Homo sapiens: one gene and its partners. The protein of the gene in region 1 interacts with the protein of each later gene in a biochemical or structural test. Each region holds a gene or a part of one and is shown on either strand. Other genes may lie near its edges.

What was found. Proteins that work in one complex are often made in the same cells at the same time.
Region 2: the proteins of PDLIM4 (region 1) and DGKZ interact in a test that uses a peptide from one of them, tested with the Homo sapiens proteins (one large-scale study listed by IntAct).
Region 3: the proteins of PDLIM4 (region 1) and RASSF6 interact in a test that uses a peptide from one of them, tested with the Homo sapiens proteins (one large-scale study listed by IntAct).

What each region holds. Positions count from the first base shown.
Region 1 is NC_000005.10:132,263,062-132,268,957, forward strand, and holds part of PDLIM4 (PDZ and LIM domain protein 4), read left to right. Parts: intron 1-3,402; coding exon 3,403-3,484; intron 3,485-5,896.
Region 2 is NC_000011.10:46,363,310-46,368,290, forward strand, and holds part of DGKZ (diacylglycerol kinase zeta), read left to right. Parts: intron 1-2,934; exon of another isoform or gene 2,935-2,947; coding exon of another isoform or gene 2,948-3,675; intron 3,676-3,981; coding exon 3,982-4,090; intron 4,091-4,342; coding exon 4,343-4,438; intron 4,439-4,692; coding exon of another isoform or gene 4,693-4,695; coding exon 4,696-4,770; intron 4,771-4,981. UniProt on the Homo sapiens protein: Diacylglycerol kinase that converts diacylglycerol/DAG into phosphatidic acid/phosphatidate/PA and regulates the respective levels of these two bioactive lipids.
Region 3 is NC_000004.12:73,582,109-73,587,089, forward strand, and holds part of RASSF6 (ras association domain-containing protein 6), read right to left. Parts: intron 3,257-4,981; coding exon 3,072-3,256; intron 2,726-3,071; coding exon of another isoform or gene 2,711-2,725; exon of another isoform or gene 498-2,710; intron 183-497; coding exon 81-182; intron 1-80.

The DNA.
Region 1 (5,896 bases):
ATTCCTTTCCCCTCCCCTGAGTGACCAGCTTGATGACCATTTCAAAGTAGTTTCTTGTGCAACACCTCATTTAACCCTCATTTACCAACTTAAAAAAGGGCTACTATAGTCCCCACTTCACAGATGAGACAAGTGAGGCTCAGAAAGGTTAGATGGTGCTTAAAGTCACACAGAGAGGGAGTGGGGTAGCAAAATTTGATTTTGGGGCTCTCTCCTAAGACTACAGACCCTTAACTTGGCTGCTGACTACTCCTACCAGCCCCTCAGCTGCCCTGCCACAGCTGTCGCCACCGTGGCCCACACCTCTGCCCTGGTTAAATCTGGATTTGGGAAAAGTTCCCACTAAGGACTGTGTAATGCTTTGCAGCCAATCAAGAAGGGGAGGACAGGGGGTTACCAAGCCCATCTGTGCTCCATAAATGATCCTGGGATAGAAGGTCCACTGGGGGTGGGGGTGGGGGGACCCAGCCTTGCTCAGGTCCTGGGTCTTTACTCAGCTCTGAGAAGCAGTTGGCCTAAGCCTGGCTGAGTGGGATCTCCCCACTCCCCTGCCCACCTTGATCCACAGAAGTCGGGCATAACTTATCAGCTCTGCCGTGTTCACTGCTGAGGGGATTTCCATGACCCCCTGTGGAAGTACGTGGGCAAAGCCTCCCCAAACCACAACACAGCTAACCATGCCTCTGAGCTGGCAGGGTGGGAGGTAAGCCACTGGCTTGGAGCCTTTAAACATGGTGGAGAGGCCTGTGAGGTCAGCCCTGTTTGTGCTTGGCCCTGGCACACGGTGAGGATGCTCCATCTTTGGAGTTCAGCAAAGCTGGTCCTCATCCAGCCTCTGGAGCCTTAGGTGCCCAGATGACCTCTATGAGCCCGGGGTTTCCTTTCCCATTAACGGATCACATTCATCACCCTCCTCCAGACTGAGATACAGGCTGGATGGGGGAAATGTCAGCATTGCTCTGCCCATGAGTGACCTCTGAAGCTTCCCCACTTGGCTGGGATCCTGGCCCCTGACTCACCTCCAGCCTTGACTCTGTGTGGCTGAACAAGGGCAGCCCTAGTGGTAGTGGAGTAGTGGGGAGGAGTGCCTCAGAGGGGGCCTGAGTCAGGAGCTTCTCAGAGTGTATGATGTCAGCGGAGGGTGGTGGGGTGGAGGTCCCCCTCCTTCTTTCCTTCCTTCCTTCCTTCCTTCCCCAGTCCTTTGTTCCAAACCAGGCATGGATGGAGCCAGAGGTCCACTGACCTGTTCCACTCTGAGCATTTCAGCCCCAAAATGTCACTGGCCATGGAGCAGATGAGAGCACATTCTCTACTATTACAGAGCTGGGTTGAGAATTATGCTCATAATTTTACCCATAAAAGAGAGAGAGGGAGAGATAACTATGCTGTGCTCCAGAAAGTGATTTAATCTCTTGAGCCCATAACTTCCTCAACCAAAAATATGGACCATCTTGCGCTCTGGACATTGAGTGATGATGTACCAGGCCTGCTCAGTCAGAGTGAAAACCTGAGTCCTGCCCTGCAGCCCCCTCACACATGCAGACTCTGGGGGATCAAGACATGAGGGCCACCTTGACTTTCTGAGCCAACATTTCTTCTCCTGGACACTTGCCCACCTGCAAGCTTTCTGACTCTGCTCCCTATCTTGCCTGCTATGCCAGGACCTATGCCTGGCCCCCAACGACACTCCTCCCCGCCCCCACCACACACACCCACACAGCAAGGGCTCTGCAGTAAATCAGCCTGTTGAGCTGGCTGGAGTGAGCTACCCTGTGCTCTCACTCCCAGGGTTCTACCCCAGACCAGCTTCCCTATCTGCCCTCTTGTGTACAGAGAGCTCTAATCCCCCCACCAACTCCCCCACAGAATGAAAAGTGTATCAAAGGCCCAGCTTCCCCACTGGGCTTCTTTTGCTTTGAGCCCAAAGCCAGGCATCCAACAATCCAAGCAAAATCACACTTCCTGGGCATGTTCTATAGGTCCAGGACCTTTCTGACATCAACTCCAACACTGAGGCCACTGATAGAGTCCCTGTTGTCCATCACATGTGGCCCAAGGTACCTTTGCACAGCCTACCCTTTGCCTGTCATTTTGTTTAAAGAGCCCAGCCTGGGATGGGGGTTGACACATGATTAAGCCCTTCATTCTGATCTGATGCATTGGGCCACATTAATGGCTCTGGGTACTTTGTGCCCTTCGACCTTAGACGTCAGGCTTGTACTGCTCTTCTGGGCAGAACTTCAGGGAAGTTGAAGGCCAAATAGCCACACAAGATGTCCCAGCTTTATCCCAGAGGAGTTCTGAGTAGATAGAGGCCACAGTTAGAGCTGTGAGTTAGGGTACCCACTTGGGAGCCTGGTTGAGGGGGCTAGAGACAGGGACTATGGGGCTGGTGTTGCCCTGGGGCAGCAGAGCTCTAATACCAAAGGCCTGGAGTAGAGAGGTAGCCTCCAAGGGACTAAGGAATGGGCAGAGGCGAGGAAGTGCAGAGTGAGTATGGACCATAGGCATAGATAGATTATTAAAACCCTCAACTGAAGGGGGCAGAAGAGGCAGGGGCAAGCTGCTAGGTCAGTAATGAGACCTTGAGAAGCCTCAGGAGGCTTCGTGGGGTGAGTTGGAGGGCATTATTCCCCTTTGGTCTAACCAGCCTCACCTCATACCCACCTGCCAGTCCAGGGTCCATGCCCCTTCCTGGCCTGCCTTCTCACAGGGCTACTGAGTGACAGGGCTGGGCCTTAGGCACGTAGCCTCTCGGCCTGCCTGCCCTGCTTATGGCAGGTTTATGATGTTTTTCTCCCTCCTGAGTGGTGTTTGGCTTTTGGTTTCTATGGCGAAGCAGGAATTTCCTAATGGCCTGTTTCCCATCTGGGCTGGGCAGACTCAGTGATGACTCTGCCGGCAGCAGCAGCAGGAGGAAAGACACACCCCTCAGAGCCTCCATTCCACCTACCCCAGAGCCGACGGACGCCTGACCCCACACCCCACCAGAGGCTGTAGATGCCCAGAGGATGCGTGGATAGGCTTCTAGCTGGTCAATGTGTGAGGCCTGGCTTGCAGTGCTATAAGCTGGGCCTCTTTGAGCTGAGCTTCTGTAGGCCACGAAGAGGGTGGAAGATTAGGGAAGACACAGGGCTTCTCCTGCAGCCTCTCCAGGAACCAGACTAGAGAGGGATTGGGCAGCCGATGGGGACAGAAGCATATAGCCCTACCCCAGGAGGATGGCAGCTAGAGTTGTGGCTCATTGCCACAACAGTCACCATTGTGGTACAGGGGAAAGCACTGGAGTGGTGTTCTTCTACCTGCAGGGCACAGCCCAGAGCCCAGCCCCTCTTGATCCTGGCTCCCAGGCATGGTGGGCGTGGTAGGAGACATATCTGACCATCACAATTTCTGCCACAGGCCTGAGGGTAGGAGCTGGCCCAGTGCCCCTGATGACAGCAAGGCTCAGGCACACAGGATCCACATCGATCCTGAGATCCAGGTATGTACAGACACTGCCTGGCCTGGCCTGGCTCAGAGTGAGCCCAGGGCAGAGGGGCCAGCATGCAGGTTCACCTGCACTGAATGTCCTCACTGGGGCTCTCAGATACCCAAGACAGAGACTGAAGCAGAAGTTTTCTCTGGACCACATCCATACCCCATCCCATGTTCCTCAGATGATGAGCACCTGGTGTGGGCTCTGTCTCTACTCCGGGCAATCCTGGATTCTGGACCAAGGTGCCTATGATGTCCAGGATCTGGGCTAGGCCTTGGTTTGCGGCTATCACACAGCCAGCTGGAGTTCACTCTGGTGCTCAGTGATGCCAGACCAGAAAGAAGTCACTGTGCTTGCAGCGGGGGAGATTGGTGGCAGTCTCAGGCTGTGGAGTGACCTCAGGCTATGGGACACTCCTCTGAGTGCCCTATCCAAGCCTGAAGTTCTCTCCTGGCCATCCTGTGGTGCTTCTAGCAGAACTTAGGCTGCAGGCCTGTCTGCCCAGTCACCTTTCTGTGTGTGATAGAAGTCATATCTCTGGTCCTGTCCTCAAGAAGAGTGAGGGGGTCAGGCTATTCTAGGGCCTTGTTTTGCCATGGCATAAGGAGTAGCCAAGTGGGGATGACTGAGGTATCCAGAGCCATCTCTGGGCCACAGAGTTTGGGCAAGGAGACTGGGATGGTCTGTGATGGAGCCAGAACCATGGGACCCAGCATGTGGGACCATTGCCTCCTGGGCCTGCCTTTGTCCACCCTCTCAACATGAAAGAAAAGGGGCCAAGGCAGGGAGAGGCTTCACTGAACCAGAGGGAAGGATGTGCCCCAGCTTCTCCCTCACTATCTACCCCAATCCCATCTTGCTCTATTCCCTACCCTGCCTGGCTGGCATCCCTGGAGCCAGATGCTTACCACCTTCCAGGCAGTGCCCATTCTGGCAGGGGAAAGGCACTTAGAAGTTCTGGGCTAGGGGAAGCCAGGGGCCAAAGGAGCCCAGAGTAGTCACATGACTCAGACAAGGAGTCAAGGAGTGCTTCCTGGAGGAAGGGGTATTGAAGCCAAGACCTGAAGGGCTAGGAATGGTAAGGCAGGCAAAGGGGTATAGGGAGAGGAAGTGTGGCCCAGAGGTGAGGTCTTGCACCACAAGTTCAGAGAAAAGAAAGGTCCAGGGGAAGGGAGGACAAGATGGAAGGAGTGAGAGGACAGAGGTGAGAGATGAGGTGGTGGAGCAGGGCCACAGAAAGGCTCTTGGGCTTCTCTATCCTGGACCTCAGCTGTTCTTACAGGGATTCATGGCCACATCTGTGTCTCAGAAACTTGCTCTGATGGCCCCATGGACCCCAGACCTTAGGGGTAGGGGTACATGTTGCCATAGACAAATGAGCCAGGTTTGCCACAGGCCAGGCAGAGGGGAGCAGCAGGGTGTGGGCCTCAAGCTCATGCATGAGGCCCAGCCTCCCTCAGAGGTAGCAGTGCCAGGATGACGTGGTGGGGAGGGGGTTCAGTCTTCCAGGAGAGGCTCAGGGCCGGTGGGCCTGGGAGGCTGGCGACTGTAGAGCAGCTCCCCCTGCCCCCACACTTGTTCTCATTGACTCCCTTGAAGACCAGGCTGCCAGTGGCTCAGACTGGAGAAGGAGGGAGTTTCCACAAGCACCAGGGCAGCCCCTCAGCTGCTGCCCCACTTTTGTACTTAAAAGGTCATGGGCTCCATGGGTGGTGACAAAAACACCCCCACCCCACCCCTGCAGGGCTGAGTCCTTGCTAACACAGACACAGGGCCCATTGTCCCCATGCTGCTCCCACCCTCTGCCTGAGTGGGGGTGTTGGGGAGGGGGTGGAGCTAGCTGGAGCCATCGAGGAGGAGGAAACCACAGTTGGCCCTAGGACCAGCACAAGGTGCCCTGGCACACATCCCCGAGTGGGATGGGACAGGGCCAGCTGGAACTTCAGGCCCACCTTCCCTGTGGGGCGATAGGAGAACCTCCTTCTCTCAGGCCTCTTGTGGGAACACAGGAGGCACTTGGCCTAGCCCAGGGTGGAGGAAGGATAGTAACTTATTACTATCCTTCTGGGTTAGTAGGGTTTTCTGGAAGGAGTGGCAATTATGCTCAGAACCAGGTGATGGGGAGAAGCAAGTCAGGTGGAGCAGGCAGTCCTTGCACACTCAGCCTGTCCTCCCCAGACCAGCAGAGAGCTAGAACTGAGCCTCTAGGAGATGGCACCTGCTCATCTGGACTCAGCGCCTGCCTCCATCCAAGTTGAGTGTCCCAAAGCAGGTAGTTACCCCCATCCTGCTGAAAAATCCACTGAGGCTTCAACAACCAAGTGGGCAGCAGGCTGGTTCTCAGAGCAGAGGAGCATATGGTACGAGGTGTACCACCCACAGAGGGGGAAAATACAGGACTGGGGGCCCAGGAATTCC
Region 2 (4,981 bases), on another chromosome or scaffold:
CATGGGTGCCCAGCAGGAGAGCCTGTGACAAATTGTCAGCTCAGCCACTCTGACAGCCTCCCCAGACACACAGGGAAACTGAGGCCCGTGAGGGGCCAACTTGCACACAGTCACACAGCACTGCCGGCCTTGCCCACCCCACTCTGCTGGGAGGGGCGGCATCATCGGCCGCCGAGGAGACTCCTGGACAGATGTGGACCTGGGCTGCCTGGCAGTGTGTGGAGCCGGGCACCACAGGAGCTCCTGTAAGCCGCCCTTGTCTCTCGAGGGGGTCCTGGCCCCTGTTGTCAGTGCAGGTCTGGGGCCGCAAGCTGGGCTCAGCCCTCACCGCTGCCCACGGGTGCAGCGGCACCTCCCCCCACTGACTGTGGCCTTTTGTTTTCTGGGTGACAGTAGCATCAGGCGGTGTGTCCGGGTGACTAATCTCCTCCAGGCTGGGCAGCTGTCACAGGGCGGCCTGACCAGGCAGGCAGGAAAGCTGACACCCTGGGGAGGGCTGGCAGGCCGGTGCCCTGACGGCAGGGGGCAGTTGGGCCTTCAGGCTCCTCTTCCCCTGACACAAAGCAGGCCCCAGGTCGGGAAGACCCGGGTTCAGGTCCCGAATGCCGCTGACTGGCCGTGGGACTGTGGCATGTTACTGGCCCTCTTGAAGCCTCAGTTTCCCCATCTCTAGAATGGAGCTGCAGGTCCTGCTTACCTCACAGGGCTGTGGTGAGGATTACACGAGATGATAAAGTACTTAGCCCAGGGCCTGTCACGTAGCAGGTGTTCGTTATTATTCCCTATCTGGTTCCCTTTCCTACCCCATCCCAGCCTCATGTTCCAGGAGGAAGGACCCTGCAACCCACCCCATTTCTGGGACGCAGGCTTTGCCGTTAGGTAGACTTGGACTCCAGCACTGACTCCACACTGACTTGCCGTGGACTCTAGGCGGTCACCTCTGCGTCAACTTCCTCATCAGGAATGCAGTGTGATGCAGTACCTATTCCTTGGGGTTGCAGTTTATGAAATGATCTAAGTGTTTGTCAGGGGCTTAGCACAGTGCCTGACACATAGGGGCTCAGTAAATGTCAGCCGTGACACTGGTGATTTTGGGGGAGACCCAGCGCTCTCCACCCATGCCTGCTGTCCTGCCCCTGCAGCTCCCTCCGGCCCAGGTGGTCTGCTTTGAGTGGGGCACTATTTGGGGTCATAAGAGCACTGCCCTGACCTCCCTGTCATCTGAGGCAGCTGGAAACTCCAATAGGCAGAGACCAAGAGCTGAGCTGTGCAGAACTCTGCTTCCCTAGGCACCTCCACCCTGTCCATCTCTCCCCCAACACCCCTGTACCTGGCCTGAAGCTGCTCAAGACCTGCAGGGCAGTAGCAAATCAGTGCAGTGTATGGAAGGAGAAGGTGCTAGACGTGCGGCCTGGGCCTGACTCCTCCAGCCCTTCATCTTTGCCTTCATCCTTCCTCCTGCCCAACATGCGTCCAGGGCATCACCCACCATGCCTAATTAATGCCAGCCTTCAGGGGACCACAGGGCTTCTTCTGTCAGCCCCAGGCAGCACTGTCCCAGGGCTGTGACCTTGACCTCTGTGGCTGCCAGCGGTTAGGATGCATCCCCCACCAGTCTCTCCCCAGGACCAGGGCCCAGGAGATCACCTGCTGTGGGGCACAGGTGGCCTCAGGTACCTGGAGGCATCGCCAGCCTGATCCATGCCAGGCAGGCTGCCCTTCCCCCACTGTTAGGAGAGGTAGGGCACAGGAGCTCGATGCTGGCTGTGAAGAAGGGTAGGCAGGGCTGAGGTGAGCTGGCAGAGGGAGCAAAGCATGAGTTCAGGATGGGTCCATGGAGGCCAGGTCCAGGTGGGAGCTAGGATGATGCCCACAGCTCCTGCCTGCCTGCAGGAGGGAGCTCTGGGCTGTGCAGCGTTTGGAATTGTGAGTATGGGGGCTTCCAGCATCAGGGCCGCAGAAGAATGTGCAGTCACAGGCTCCATCAGGAGCAGAGTCAGAAGGGTTTCCCGGCATCACCCAGCTTCACCCTGGGGTATCCGTACTTTGTCCCTTCAGAAAGGTGAGACAGAGCAGTCGAGCACCAGAAAGTTCTTACCATCAGCACTTCAGACATACAGGCACGCACACACCCAGAATCCAGAAGGCTTTGCTTTTGGCCCAAGCCTATTGTCACGGCCCCCTGGGTGTGAAGGGAGACTGAGCAGCCTCTCTCCCAGGAGAGCCAGACAGTGACTCTCCAGTTCCCTGAGACCTGGTCTCCCCTGAGCTACACATTAGACCCTCTCTATTTCCAGGAGTCACCTTCAGCCTGACCCCAAGGCTATGGGCTGAGAGACTCTGGGGGTCCTGTCAGGATTAAGTTCCTTTGCAGAGAGCCTCATTTTGTTATAGCTTGGTTTGCTCCATGTCCCATGAGGGGACACCTAACCTGCCCCCACCATGTTGGTGGCAAAACAAAGGCCCAGCAAGTGGGAAGCCCTGCCCTGGGCCCCACCGTCCATCCAGGCAGACCGACTCCCCATTTTCTTTTTGTTTTCTTTTCCATCAGCTTCCGGCAGGGCAGGTGGAGGCCTTTAGGCCCAGAGCTCTGTAGATTCTGGTGCCTGGATGGGGGAAGAAGGGGTAGCCTGAAGCACCCACCTCCCTGGGACTCCAGGGCTCCCTAGGGTGCAATGGGGGAGAGCATCAGTGCCCCAACAGCTGTAAACGTGGGCTCCCCTGAGCACCCCTGGGATCCTCACATGGAGGTCAGAGGCTGCAGTGACCCCTCCCTCCCTCAGGGGTTGCTTCCCTTCTCATGGGGCAGAGGCTGTGAATGGGCTCCTGGTTGCTTCCCTTCTCATGGGGCAGAGGCTGTGAATGGGCTCCCGGACACAGGACAGACCGTGGCCTGATCCAGCTCCTGATGCTCCCGGTCTCTGTGCCCAACAGCCAACCGCCTGCCATGGAGACTTTCTTTAGGAGACATTTCCGGGGGAAGGTGCCAGGCCCTGGAGAGGGGCAGCAGCGGCCCAGCAGCGTGGGGCTGCCCACAGGCAAGGCCCGGCGTCGCTCCCCCGCTGGGCAGGCCTCCTCCTCACTGGCACAGCGGCGCCGCTCCAGCGCCCAGCTCCAGGGCTGCCTCCTGAGTTGCGGGGTGAGGGCCCAGGGTTCCAGCCGCCGGCGCTCCAGCACTGTGCCCCCTTCCTGCAACCCCCGCTTCATCGTGGATAAGGTGCTCACTCCACAGCCTACCACCGTGGGGGCCCAGCTTCTGGGTGCACCCCTGCTGTTGACCGGGCTTGTGGGCATGAATGAGGAGGAGGGTGTCCAGGAGGATGTGGTAGCCGAGGCATCGAGCGCCATCCAGCCAGGCACCAAGACACCAGGGCCACCCCCACCTCGGGGCGCCCAGCCGCTGTTGCCCCTACCCCGCTACCTGCGCCGAGCCTCCTCCCACCTGCTCCCCGCGGATGCCGTATATGACCACGCTCTCTGGGGCCTGCACGGCTACTATCGGCGCCTCAGCCAGCGGCGGCCCTCAGGCCAGCACCCTGGCCCTGGGGGCCGAAGAGCCTCAGGCACCACCGCCGGCACCATGCTGCCCACCCGTGTGCGCCCACTGTCCCGCAGGCGCCAGGTAGCCCTACGGCGCAAGGCGGCCGGACCCCAGGCCTGGAGCGCCCTGCTCGCGTAGGTATAGCTGTGGCCAGCAGGGCGAGTGGTGTGACCTCCTGTGGGTCTGGCCTGGGCATGGGCCTTGAAGCTCTGCCTGGCTGAGGGTTCCCCACTTGGGAACACTCTGGGCAGTACCCTGAAGCCAGCGTACCCCAAAAGGCCATGTCTCTTGCAGGGAGCCTCTTAGTGTCTGGGGCTGCTGGGAGGCTCCTCCGCCCTCCCTGTTGCCGAGGTCACGGAAAGGGCAGAGGCCCCAGGAGGTGGGAGGAAGTAGGGTCAGCAAGTGCTCAGCCCCCTCCTCAGCTGTCTTCTCCTCTCTAGGAAAGCCATCACCAAGTCGGGCCTCCAGCACCTGGCCCCCCCTCCGCCCACCCCTGGGGCCCCGTGCAGCGAGTCAGAGCGGCAGATCCGGAGTACAGTGGACTGGAGCGTGAGTGCCTGAACACCCCTGGGTCCCAGACCCTCTGGGCTCTTGGCCAAGGCGCAGCTGGCGGGTGGAGGCACTAAAGGCAGCTGGGAGAGCCAAGCCTGGAAGGGTTGGGACAGTGGGGCAGACGGAACAGAGCAGGGTCGATCGGGGCGCTGGAGTGGGTTTGTCTTGGGAGAGGGCGGGTGGGCGGGGGCTGATGGGAGGGAGGGCTGGGCGGCCAGCGTGTGCTGAGCAAGCCCATCCCGTGGCTAGGAGTCAGCGACATATGGGGAGCACATCTGGTTCGAGACCAACGTGTCCGGGGACTTCTGCTACGTTGGGGAGCAGTACTGTGTAGCCAGGATGCTGGTGAGTGCTCGTAGGGGCACGCCGCCCCCTGCTGGTGGAGCCAGTAGCCGCAGCCCTTCCGGGAACGTGGGATTGAGCCCGCTCCCTGGCACCCCTGCTGTGGGCCGCCCCAGGATGGTGAGGGGTGCAGGGGCTTTGTCCGGATGCCAGGACTGGGGCTTCCCAGTGCACACAAAGGGCAGCTGTGCTGGGGCAGGCAGCCTCCGAGATAGACTTACCTGGTGCCTCAGGGGCCCTCTCTTCCTGTCCTGCAGCAGAAGTCAGTGTCTCGAAGAAAGTGCGCAGCCTGCAAGATTGTGGTGCACACGCCCTGCATCGAGCAGCTGGAGAAGGTGGGTGGGTAGCTCAGCTTTGCCCGCCCCTGCCCTTTGGGTGCTGAGGCCCTTTCAGCGCGCACTCACACCCACATGTTATACAAACGGCCTGCCAGGAGTGACCCAGCACTCGGGGGTGAAGAGTCAAGGACCCTGGAGCCAAATGCCTGCGTTCGAATCCTGGCTCCTCACTGATTAGCTGCTGTATCCCCACTGCCTGGAACAAACC
Region 3 (4,981 bases), on another chromosome or scaffold:
GTTTCAGAAGAGTGGATTTGTGTGTTTATAGTTGAATTATATATAATATATTTATAGCTCAGTTAAGTGATAAAGGTTACCTTAAATTTTTGGAGAAGTTGCTTTATTACTTCTTCAGTTCTCATGTTACTGTTTACTCTGACCTTAGTTTCTGATTCAAAGGCTGGAATGAAAATTGATGTCTAGAAAAAGAATTGTCACATAAGTCTTTAAAATTATATTATATTAAGGGTATTCAATATCTTGAACATAATCTTCTTATAGGGCAAAAAAAATCCAAGGTCATTAATTTAAAAAATTTGTTTTGTTTTTGTTTGTTTTTCTTTGTTGTTTTTGAATATTATGTGTTCTTTTAAGCAGCTTTATATTGTTTCTAGAGTAAATTAGGTAAAACACCATTTGAGGATGCTTATAACATTTTCACTGGACAATTACACCCCTCTTTAGTGCAGTTTAAGATTTCAAAATAAGTAAGAAAGAATGTCACCAGATGCATATTTAAAAACGGATAGAGATATTAAGTAAGGATTTATTTCCACATATTTTATTTATATGCACAATCTCCAAGTATTCCAAGGCTCTGTAGAAATGGGGTGGGTTCAGCAGATGTAGAGATGGGTGGGTTTTGGGGTGGCTCATTGGACTGTTAAAAAGATAAGTCCTATATTGAGAGATCAGTAAATTAACATCAAAGTATACAGACACAAACATTTATAACACCCACACATGTAACACGCACACACACACACACGGCATTTGTGTGAGTAAAAATGTGGATATGTAAATAAGTTTTCTGAGAAGATGTGTGGAGAGTGTCTAGGATAAACTTTTATAAGTATGAGAAAATTCAATATTTGTAGACATTTTAGAGCATTGATAAGTTATTCTGTGACATTTACGATTTCTATGGAGCCCTGAAAAACCACATGTTCATCCTGCGCTAAGGTGAATATGATATGTTGTACACGTGGTTTGATGTTGTTTATGTGAAGAAGCTTCATGCACTATGACAATAACATGGATTACCATTCAGGAGACCTAGATTTTAGTGCCCACTAAATGCCCACGAACTCCAACTTTGTCAACTCATTTAACATCTTTATTGACTCACTTAACATATATTTGATAAATGACTTCATTTATAAAATAAGATAGTAAGACTAATCTCTAAGAGCTCTTCTAAAATGTCAACATATAGTGAATTTGTTTTTCAGAGCAGTATTTAAATCTATAGTCTTTATATCAGTTGTGTTGGCCAAAACATATAATGAAACCTGCTATCATTTACTATCACATTGATAGAAATATACTACTGGTCAAGTTATATTCACCATAACTAATCTCCAGATATGACAATCTAAGCCTTTAATATGTGTGTTATTCATAGCCTAACAATATTGGCATTAACAAGGGGCTTCATAGTATAAAAACATATCTTACGACACACAGCAACTTAAGAAACATATCCACTAAAATTCCTAGATGTCCGTCATTGTATAATTGTTGATAGAATGCTTTGTTTTTTCTTTTTTGTTTGTATTGTTTTCTGCTAGTTATTAAATTGCAGTGAATGACATTTGTGTAAAATATCTATAGTCCCAGCTTGAGCTCATTCAATCAACAGCAACAACATAAGCTAATGTAGACCGAGTTCTTTTGTGCCAGGTACTATTCTTATGCTGAACTTACCTCATTTCATTCCATCCCATCAACAGCCTTGTAAAGTAAGAAGAATGAAACTTGCTCAGCAAGAATGTAAAACCAGGCTGTCAAGCTCCAGGGCCCAAGCATTTAACCACCATTCCGTGCTGCCAACCTAGTGTCAATTTCATTTCCAGCACAAGTGATCCAATCTGAAAGCCACTTGCTTGGAGCAATGTGGCTTTCCTTCTTCAACACAAATTACCCCACAAGATAATGACATACAACACAATTTCTGTGAAGAGGGAAACAGGACAATTGGTAGGTACCTCTCTGTGGGGGACTATCAATGCTACTTTATAGCTATGAGAATGATTCTGGAACCCTAAAATTCTGATATGAATAAATAATTGAGAAGAGAGATTTCTCCCCACCAGGCTCCAAAGACACACTATCGTTACCCCCCAAGGGTAGAAGAAGAAGAAATAAAGTAGAAATCCTTACAGGAAAAAGCCTACAAAGCAATGAGTTCCTATTTCTTATTAAAGGCCTCAGAAGATACCTGGCACAGTGTAAGTGCTAAGTATTTATGAGATGGAGCGATGAATGATTGCTAAAGTACATCACATGAAAAATATTTGAGTTCTGGAAAAAAATGATGATATATTTCCTACCTTCAGCAAAATGTAATGTCTTACAAGCACTATGGAAAGGCACATATAAATTTAACACATATTCAGTGAAAAAGCAGAATGTGAATTGTATCTAAACTACAACTACACTTATATAAAAACGGTATGTGTATAGGTAAAAGACCTGGAACATGGCAACATGAGAAGTTTGATTTATTGGAATAAATTGGCCTGTGGCTTTTTCCTTTTATTTAAATGTTCACGTTCAAATGTCCTTTGATCCAACCACTTTGTAGCACTTACATTATTCCAGTATTATTGTTGGTATGTTGGTTTCCCTGCTCAATCCCTGAGCTCCGTGCTGGCTGAGACATCGGCTGCCTCATCTGCATGTTTTTAATACTTGGCACAGTGATAGAGTTCACCCATCATGGTGGTTAAAAACTTGTGTTCTGGAGTCAGACAAAGCTGGGTTCAGGTTGAGAGTTACTACTTAAGAGTAGCATAATCTAAGACAAATTGCTTAATCTCCATAAGCCTCAATTAGCTTATATGTCAAGTAAAGAAAATAATGGTACCTATTTCATAGGATTGTTTTAGTGATTAATAAGATAATTCAGTAAAAATCTATTTAAAACACATTTACTTTAATATCTAGCACATAGAGAGTGCCCCCAAGATGTTAGACATGCTACTGTTATTATTATGACTTTAAATTGTGAATTGAATTGGGTGGTATTGTTAGTGAAACAGGGAACCTTATTTTATATTACATTAATGGAATTGTAACTCACTTACTTCATGGTTATAGAAGTGTCCATTAATAGAGGCTCTATTTTTCTGTCTTTCTTTTCTGTCCATCATCAGAGGCTTCATCCTTTTTCTCACCAGAGCTGCTTCACTCATGGTTCTATAGAGCACTGGGGAGTCTGGTTCATCCTTTGCATGTGGCTTCAGGGTGTTGCTGTGATAAGATAAATAGTCTGGGAAGAATAGATTATAAGCTCATATCATTCAGCTGCCTGTGTCCTAGCATCCTGAGTGGATTTGTGTATGCTTTCATTAATTTTAGGAATATTGCTATTTTCTGGCTGTGTAAAAGCATTATAGTCCACTGCTTAGCTGCATATTTACTTATTAAATGTTGCCTGAGACTGACTCAGCAAATTCTGCCAGTATCTCATATAAAATTCTTATGTCTCATTCTTATGTTTCATAAGAAATGATCACAATGATCATGTTTGGGGTTTGGGCATTCCTTTAATCTTAATTTATTGGGGAGTGCATTTTGTGGCATTTCAGAGTGTTAGAGCTGGAATAAACCTGATACTTTATCAGGTTTGATCTCTTACAGGTAAGAAAAAGTACAGTGAGTTGAAGTGGCTTTCCTATGGACATAGTACTCATAAATGATAGAATCAGGTCTGGATCCTTATTTTTTTATTTTTATTTTTATTTTATTATTATTATACTTTAAGTTTTAGGGTAATGTGCACAATGTGCAGGTTAGTTACATATGTATACATGTGCCATGCTGGTGTGCTGCACCCATTAACTCGTCATTTAGCATTAGGTATATCTCCTAATGCTATCCCTCCCCCCTCCCCCCACCCCATTATATGTTGGCCCAAGTTCTTTGGAGCTTTTCCTAAAAAATAAACACTGGGCCTTAGTTTTCCTATAAAACTACAGAAAGCTCTTTGAGAAGCTATTTATATGGTATGTGGAGCATTGAAAGATTTTGTTCCCATCTTTTATAAAAGCAAAAGGAATAGTATGCTTTGGACTAGTCCTACTATTTGTAATATATCACATTATGTTCTTTTTAGAACATTCCAGATGTATGATATGAATGACTTTTTCACTTAGTTGTCCACTATCCTATTATTTCTTCTCATTGAGTCATGTATATTTAACAATGATTCATAATTGATTAGTCAAAATTTGGTTACTGAATTATTACAATTTCTATAGCAGATTTTAGAGTATAAAATTATAGTGTAGCGTTGAACAACTCTAGTATCTATTGAGTAGGCAGAAGGTGTTTAAATGGAATTGAATTGAGCTACAATGTGTTACTAGCCTAAGATGCAGAAGATTCAAACCTGCCTTCTGCCCCCCTTTCTGCTTGTATACAATTGATAGTACCTTTTTCAATTTCCTCTCCTATGCATATTCATATGTAAGAATAAGACCATGTGGTGGCATTTGTGTTTTATTTTACTTTAGGATTTTAAAAAATTTTCTACTGTAATTAGAACATTATCAAATAGGCATGAGATATTTCTTCCTTCTCTAGCACTGCTGTTTAAATACAAATATATTTTTATGATGTCTTTGATGCCAAGATACTGGGATTTCCTTGGGTTTCATATATATTTCTAAAAGATAATTGGAAGGGCCGATATTTAACAAGATGTAAAGATCCCATGGCATAAAGAGAAAAGGGAACCCTGGAAGGAACATCATGTTTGTCACAGGATCTGGGTTCCTGTGGAATAGCAGACGAGGCAGAATTGAGAATGATTTGAAAAAAAAAAAAAGAGAACAAACATTGCAAGTTGCTGGTAGGCTTATGAAGTTAATGCTAGTGGGATACCTTTGTTCACACTGAACTGACTTCGTAAATCACAGCCCCATTTCAGGCACATGAACCCTGTCCACCACCCCTCATTCTAGCTTCAGTCATCAGCATCCACTACTCTTTG